Homo sapiens: one gene and its partner. The protein of the gene in region 2 interacts with the protein of the main gene of each other region in a pairwise test. Each region holds a gene or a part of one and is shown on either strand. Other genes may lie near its edges.

What was found.
Region 1: the proteins of SZT2 (region 2) and CRX interact in binary tests that used the Homo sapiens proteins (3 or more experiments, as listed by UniProt).

Annotation. Positions count from the first base shown.
Region 1 is NC_000019.10:47,828,298-47,832,118, reverse strand, and holds part of CRX (cone-rod homeobox protein), read right to left. Parts: intron 1-3,821. UniProt on the Homo sapiens protein: Transcription factor that binds and transactivates the sequence 5'-TAATC[CA]-3' which is found upstream of several photoreceptor-specific genes, including the opsin genes.
Region 2 is NC_000001.11:43,396,341-43,400,161, reverse strand, and holds part of SZT2 (KICSTOR complex protein SZT2), read right to left. Parts: intron 1-3,821.

The DNA of each region.
Region 1 (3,821 bases), on a different chromosome or scaffold from region 2:
AAAAAAAAAAAAACATAAGGCTGCTCTCTGAACTGATTTTAAAAGATCTCCATTATATAGTTTTAAAAAATTGTTCTAGGGGCCAGGTGTGGTGGCTCACATCTGCAATCCCAGCACTTTGGGAGGCCAAAGCAGGCGGATCACCTGAGGTCGGGAGTTCGAGACCAGCCTGGCCAACATGGTGAAACGTCTCAACTAAAATACAAAAATTATCCGGGCGTGGTGGCAGGCGCCTGTAATCCCAGCTACTCTGGAGGCTGAGGCAGGAGAATCGCTTGAGCCCGGGAGGCAGAGGTTGCAGTGAGCCCAGATCGTGCCACTGCACTCCAGCCTGGGAGACAAGAGCAAGACTTCATCTCAAAAAAAATAAAAATTAAAAAAAGTTCTAGGCTCGGCAATAAGACAAAAAAAGCTGACAGCATGCCATTTCCAAGTCATCTGGGAGTCTTGTCTAACAGACCCACCCAAAGTTTGCTTCATATTCCAAGGCAGCAGTCCTCAACCTTTTTGGCACCAAAAACTGGTTTCGTAGAAGATAATTTTTCCATGGATGGGAGTGGGCAGTGCCTTAGATTTTCATAAGGAGTGTACAACCTAGATCTCTCGCACGTGCAGTTCACAATAGGGTTCACGTTCCTGTGAGAGTCTAGAGCCACCGCTGATCTGACAGGAGGCGGGGCTCAGGCAGTAATGCTTGCTCACCAGCTGTGCAACCCCATGCCTAACAGACTACAAACCGGGGGTTGGGGACCCTATTCTAAGGGACTGTACCTGTATTTGATTTACTATTCTTTTTTTTTTTTTTTTTTTTTGAGACAGAGTCTTGCTCTGTCGCCCAGGCTAAAGTGCAGTGGCGCGATCTCGGCTCACTGCAACTTCTGCCTCCTGGGTTCAAGCGATTCTCCTGCCTCAGCCTCCTGAGGAGCTGGGATTACAGGCATGCGCCACCATGCCCGGCTAATTTTTGTATTTTTAGTAGAGACGGGGTTTCACCATGTTGGCCAGGCTGGTCTCGAACTCCTGACCTCGTGATCCGCCTGCCTCGGCTTCCCAAAGTGCTGGGATTACAGGCGTCAGCCACTACACCCGGTCTGTTATTCATTATTGATTAGAGTCTAGACTTCGACAAGGTAAATGGTAACCCCAGGAAGTTTGGTTGCAAATGATTTCTCTCTGGTAGAAAAGGTAACCTCAAAGGTTACAGTTGTATTGTCCTGTAGGTCTTTAACCAGTTTTGTATCTAACCTGGCAAATTTTCTCCAGCCCGTCTTTCCTGACTAAACCTATCAACTTCTGTTCATCAAATTCTCCTTTTTTTTTTTTTTAATGGAGTCTTGTTCTGTCGCCCAGGCTGGAGTGCAGTGGCACAATCTCGGCTTGCTGCAAACTCCACCTCCTGGGTTCAAGTTATTCTCCTGCCTCAGCTTCCCAAGTAGCTGGGATTACAGGCATGAGCCACCACACCCAGCTAATTTTTTGTATTCTTAGTAAAGACAAGGTTTCACCATTGTTAGCCAAGCTGGTCTCGAACTCCTGACCTCAGGCACCCGCCACCACGCCCAGCTAATTTTTGTATTTTTAGTAGAGTCGGGGTTTCACCATGTTGGCCAGGATGGTCTCAATCTCTTGACCTCGTGATCCACCCACCTCAGCCTCCCAAAGTGCTGGGATTACAGGCGTGAGCCACTGCACCCGGCCCAAATTCTCCTTTGAAACAGCTGGTTCCTTCATTCATGACTTAAATAAATCTTTGACCTGTGCTTATTATATATGCGTCAGAGAATCAGATTTGTTTTTTGGGGTTTTTTAAGAGACAAGGTCTCCCTCTGTCATCCAGGCCGGAGTGCAGCGGCGTTGCCATAGCTCACTGCAGCCTCCAACTCCTGGGCTCAAGTGATCTTCCCACCTCAGCCTCCCAAAGTGCTAGGACTACAGACATGAGCCACCACACCTGGCCAAATGTTTTTCTTTTTTTCCCATTTAATTGCACTTTGACAATAAGTGTTTGTGAATGTTATTTTATATATTGTATATGACCAAACCATATATATTTATTATTATTTGTGTTATTATATATTATAAATATTATAAAATTATAATATTTATATATTCAAAGGAAACAAGTATGGTGCTGGGCAGTATGTATACCTCGCAACCATTTGTGATTTTTAAAACAATGCAGATGGCCAGGTGCTGTGTCTCACACCTATAATCTCAGCACTTTGGGAGGTCAAGGTGGGCAGATTGCTTGAGCCCAGGAGTTCGAGACCAGCCTGGGTAACATGGCAAAACGCTGTCTCCACAAAAAAAAAAATACAAAAATTGGTCAGGCATGGTGGTCCGCACCTGTAGTCTCAGCTACTCAGGAGGCTGAGGCAGGAGGATCACTGGAGCCCAGGATTTGGAGACTGCAGTGAGCTATGAGCATGCCACCGCACACCAGCCTAGGCAATAGAGGAAGACCTTGTCTCAATAATAACAATAAATAGGCCAGGTGCAGTTGCTCACGCCTGTAATGCCAGCACTTTGGGAGGCCGAGGCAGATGGATCACCTGAGGTCAAGAGTTCAAGACCAGCCTGGCCAACATGGCAAAACCCTGTCTCTACTAAAAATACAAAATTAGGCAGGCGTGGTGGTGGGCGCCTGTAATCCCAGCTACTCCAGAGGCTGAGGCAGGAGAATCACTTGAACCCGGGAGGCAGAGGTTGCAGTGAGCCGAGATCACGCCATTGCACTCCAGCCTGGGCAACAAGAGCGAAACTCCATCTCAAAAAAAGAGTCATAATAATAAAGTAAATTTAAAAATAAAAATACAATAAAATAAAAATACAAAAATTAGCCAGGCATGGTGGTGCATGCCTGTAATCCCAGCTACTTGGGAAGCGGAGGCAGGAGACCCTCTGGAACCTGGGAGGTGGAGGTTGCAGTGAGCCGAGATTATGCCAGTGCACTCCAGCCTGGGAGGCAGAGTGAGACTCCATCTCAAAAATAATAAGTATTATAATTATGAATTAATAAACAAAATGAGGCATTGATTTTACTCATGTGTAGAATATACACTTGTATATGCGTAGAAAATTCCCAGGAAGGAAGCAAGCTACTGGCACCAGTGACTGCCTCTGGGAAGGAATGCTAAAGCCATATCTTGTCTCTATAGTTTGGATTACTTTTTAATTGTGTGTGTGTGTGTGTGTGTGTGTGTGTGTGTGTGTGTGTGTGTGTGTTCTTGTCAAAAGCAAAAACAACAATAAAATCTTCAAAAAAGCAAACAGAACATGAAAACCCTCTGAGGGTTCCTCATTGCCCTCATTAGGATGGACTCAGAAAACCTCTCACCCTCCACAGCTATTTGCATAAGCCGTTTCCTGGGCTAGGAACGCCTCTCCCCCACCCCAAAGCCCCTCTCACCAGCTAACCCCTTCTCCTCCACGTCTCAGCTCAGCTACTTTCCCCAGAGAAAGCAACCTACGCCCCTAAACTGGATTTTACACACACACACACACGCTCCCTACCTCCTTTTCTTCAAGACACAGCTTGTATTAAACGACATATTTATATGTTTGTTTATCTATCTCTCTCCCTCAAATTCTATCAGTTACCTGAGTTCAGGGACTGGTAATATCTCGGTTCCTGCCATGTCCCCAGCACCCCCAATAAATATTTGAAACATAAGAAAAAGAATTAAAAATGGATGGTGTTTATTGTGAGCTCCCACTCTTCCGTTCCTCTCACTGTCCTTTCCTTCTCATCCCTCACATGAGGAGGGGGACAGATTCTGTTTATTTTAAGTTGAGATTCTACTGTTCATTCAGTAAATATT
Region 2 (3,821 bases):
TTGAGAACAGCCTGGGCAAACGGTGAAAGTCCATCTCTAAAAAAAAAATACAAAAATTAGCTCGGCATGGTGGTGAGCACCTGTAGTCCTAGCTACTTGGGAGATTGAGGTGGGAGGATCGCTTAAGTCTGGGAGGTTGAGGCTGCAATGAGCTATGATCACACCACTGCACTCCAGCCTGGGCAAAACAGCAAGATTCTGTCTCAAAAAATAAATAAAAATAATAATAAAATGAAATTACACCTTGGGAGATACTACTCTCTGTTACACTGCTTTCCAACACTGTGTTGAGACAGGTCCTGGCTAGGATTTTGGATTCATCCTTTGAGTGAGTTTAAGCTACTAAAGGAATTCCACAAGACAGTAACATTATATCTGCATTAAAAAAAATTCCCTCTGGTGGCCGGGCACCATGGCTCACGTCTGTAATCCCAGCACTTTGGGAGGCCAAGGCAGGCGGTTCACGAGGTCAGGAGATCGAGACCACCCTGGCTAACACAGCGAAACCCCGTCTCTACTAAAAATACAAAAAATTAGCTGGGTGTGGTGGCGGGTGCCTGTAGTCCCAGCTACTCAGGAGGCTGACGCAGGAGAATGGCGTGAACCCGGGAGGCGGAGCTTGCAGTGAGTCGAGATCACGCCACTGCACTCCAGCCTAGCGAGACTCCGTCTCAAAAAAAAAAAAAAAAAAAAAATTCCCTCTGGCTACTGTGTGATTTAGAAAGCACCCTCCCACCGCAGACTAACAACTAGGGGAGATGACAGTGGCTTAGACTAGAGCTACTCAAAGTAGCCATTCTGTGAACTGTGTGAGACTGGGTCTTGATGAGATAATGCCAGGATGCAAAACCACCACTATCTTTCACGGTGAAAGTCTTATTATGGAAAACAAAAAGTCAGCTGAACTAAACAGTGAACTTAGTTGTATTTCAAGGGATCTTTAGGATAGGACAGAAAAGAACTGGTGATTAATTATAAGTCAGGACATAGGAGGAAAGTAACAAAAAGGAAGGTATCAAGGATGATTAAAGTAGCATTGGAAACCAATACGCTGCAAAATGATTTTTTTCTTTTTTTTTTTTGAGACGGAGTCTCGCTCTGTCGCCTAGGCTGGAGTGTAGTGGCGCAATCTCGGCTCACTGCAACTTCCGCCTTCTCAGTTCAAGCGATTCTCCCACCTCAGCCTCCTGAGTAGCTGGGACTACAGGGGCATGCCACCATGCCTGGCTATTTTTTGTATTTTTAATAGAGATGGTGGTTCACCATATTGGCCAGGCTGGTCTCGAACTCCTGACCTTGTGATCTGCCCGCCTCCACCTCCCAAAGTGCTGGGATTACAGGCGTGAGCCACCGCACCCAACCTACTGCAAAATGATTTCTAAGTTAGCTACAAAAAGTAGATAGTTATTCCTGACTACCACACCCCATCGAAAAGTCCCATCAAATTGTACACTCTTATCGCCATGCTCCTAAAAACAGAAAAGGGGTCTATTTATTGGCAAAGAAGGAAATCACAGCAATTACTCACCCTTTCTTTCTCTGATCCTTGGTTTTAGGGTGGGATACTAAACCAGGCAACCTCTCCTTCAGGTTTGACTTAGCTAGTGTGGGTGGGATATTATGTGTTGACTATGCTGGATACTGCCAAAGTTCTTATCTAAAAAAGCATGTACAAGAGACTTACTGGAGTTTTAAAAAAGAATTTTTTTGTTAAGGGATGGTTTGGGGCTCAGAGCATTATCAGAATAGGAAGGCTATCCTAATTCAGCAGTCATTTGTTTATCACTCTGTCTCCAGAGCCCAGTGCAGTGCCTGGCACATAGGATGTTCAATAACATTTCTCTAAATAAGTGAATTCGCTATGGTTTTTTCTCCCCACCACCACCTCTTCCCCTCTCGCTATATGTTCTAAGCACGGCAAACTGGACATTTAAAACTAATCATAATTAGTACAACTTTTCTCAAGATGAGATCACCTTAACACTAGTGTCAACACTACTTTCCTTTTGTTCTTTGGTACTAAATACTTTTTGTTTTCAAATGCCAGCCTGTTTCAGCTATGCAAGGAAAAACCAAGGAAAAGCGTTTTGGCCCACGTAAGGCCAGGGTTAAAAGGGGAAGAGCACATGGTTGTGGGTCAGCACTATAAGGACAGAGTTGGGCACGTGGTCACCTCATCTTCTAGGACTAAAATCACGGCAAATCTAGGTTTAATAAATGAACCTTTCCATGACTGTCTGCACTAAGTTAGGGTCCTATGTTGGGCATTCACACAGCACTCTGTATTTTTTCTTCATGACACCTGCCAGAGTTTATAATTAAGAATTTGTAGGGGCCGGGCGTAGTGGCTCACACCTGTAATCCCAGCACTTTGGGAGGCCGGGGTGGGTGGATGACCTGAGGCCAGGAGCTCGAGACCAGCCTGGCCAATGTGGCGAAACCCCACCTCTACCAAAACATACAAAAATTAGCCGGGCATAGTGGAGCACATCTGTAGTCCCAGCTACTTAGGGGACCGAGGCAGGAGAATCGCTTGAACCCAGGAGGTGGAGGCTGCAGTGAGCCAAGATTGCACCACTGCACTCCAGCCTGGGCAACAGAGCAAGACTCCATCCATCTCTCCATCTCAAAAAAAAAAGAATTTGTATACTTTAATGTTTGTTTCCTGTATAAGTCTGAAGATCCAGCGAGGTGGAGGCCATGTCTACATATTGTTTCTTTTCTTTTTTTTTTTTTGAAATGGAGTCTCGCTCTGTCACCCAGGCTGGAGTGCAGCAGTGCCATCTTGGCTCACTGCAACCTCCGCCTCTTGGTTCAAGTGATTCTCTTGCCTCAGGCTCCTCAGTAGCTGGGACTATAAGCACGTGCCACCACACCCAGTTAATTTTTGTATTTTCAGTAGAGACAGGGTTTTGCCATGTTAGCCTGGTCTCGAACTTCTACCTCAGGTGATCCACTGGCCTCAGCCTCCCAAAGTGCTGGGATTACAGGTGTTAGCCACCACACCTGGCCTATACATTGTTTCTTGCTGTAACCCTAGAGCCTAGCACAGTGCCAAGACATACTAAGTGTTCTAATAATAACTGTTGAATACATGTATGAACAAGGAAAACTAATCTCACAAGCTGTATTTATTCTGTTTCCAGCTATTCTTAATTTGTTACCAATAATTTCTAATTTTTCACTCTTCTATCAACATGGTTTTTGTTGACGAAGAGTTCCTGTCCTTTATTCACTTCATCTTTCAATCATTTATGGACAAGGTAAGCTATTCTATTTTTGGAGTTTTTCCTTTGCTTCCACAAACATCGTTTTTACCACATTTTCACTAGTATCTTCTTCTTTATTGTTCCTGGAACCCTGGGGGAGTGCAAATGGGGGTTCTAACAGATTTGCTTTATGTTCCATTAGCTTTGTTTTAGAAAGAACAGTGTTACAGAAAGAAAGTGTTGTGATTTGACAGCTAAGACTCTGGGTGAGCTTCCTCCTGTGTAAAAATACCAGCTAGCCCAATGATGTGTGAAAGCACCTTGTAAAAAGTAACGTGTATAAATGCACAGATTAGTAATAACAAAGTGTTGCTGTTTACCTCTCTTCTTTGAGTCAGAAGTCCTGCACAGCCATTCACTTCAGTGTTGTTTCTTTGTTTTTTTTGCCCATACCTGTTTAGTTGGTAGAGTTGGGAATGTCCTCACATAGAGCCAGAATCTGTCTTTTTGATAATATCTTGACCTACTCTTAAAATCTGTTGTCTTGAAAATATCTAACCCACTTTTTGTTTTACCTTCTAAGGCCACACAGGGAGAATCTGACCCTCTGCC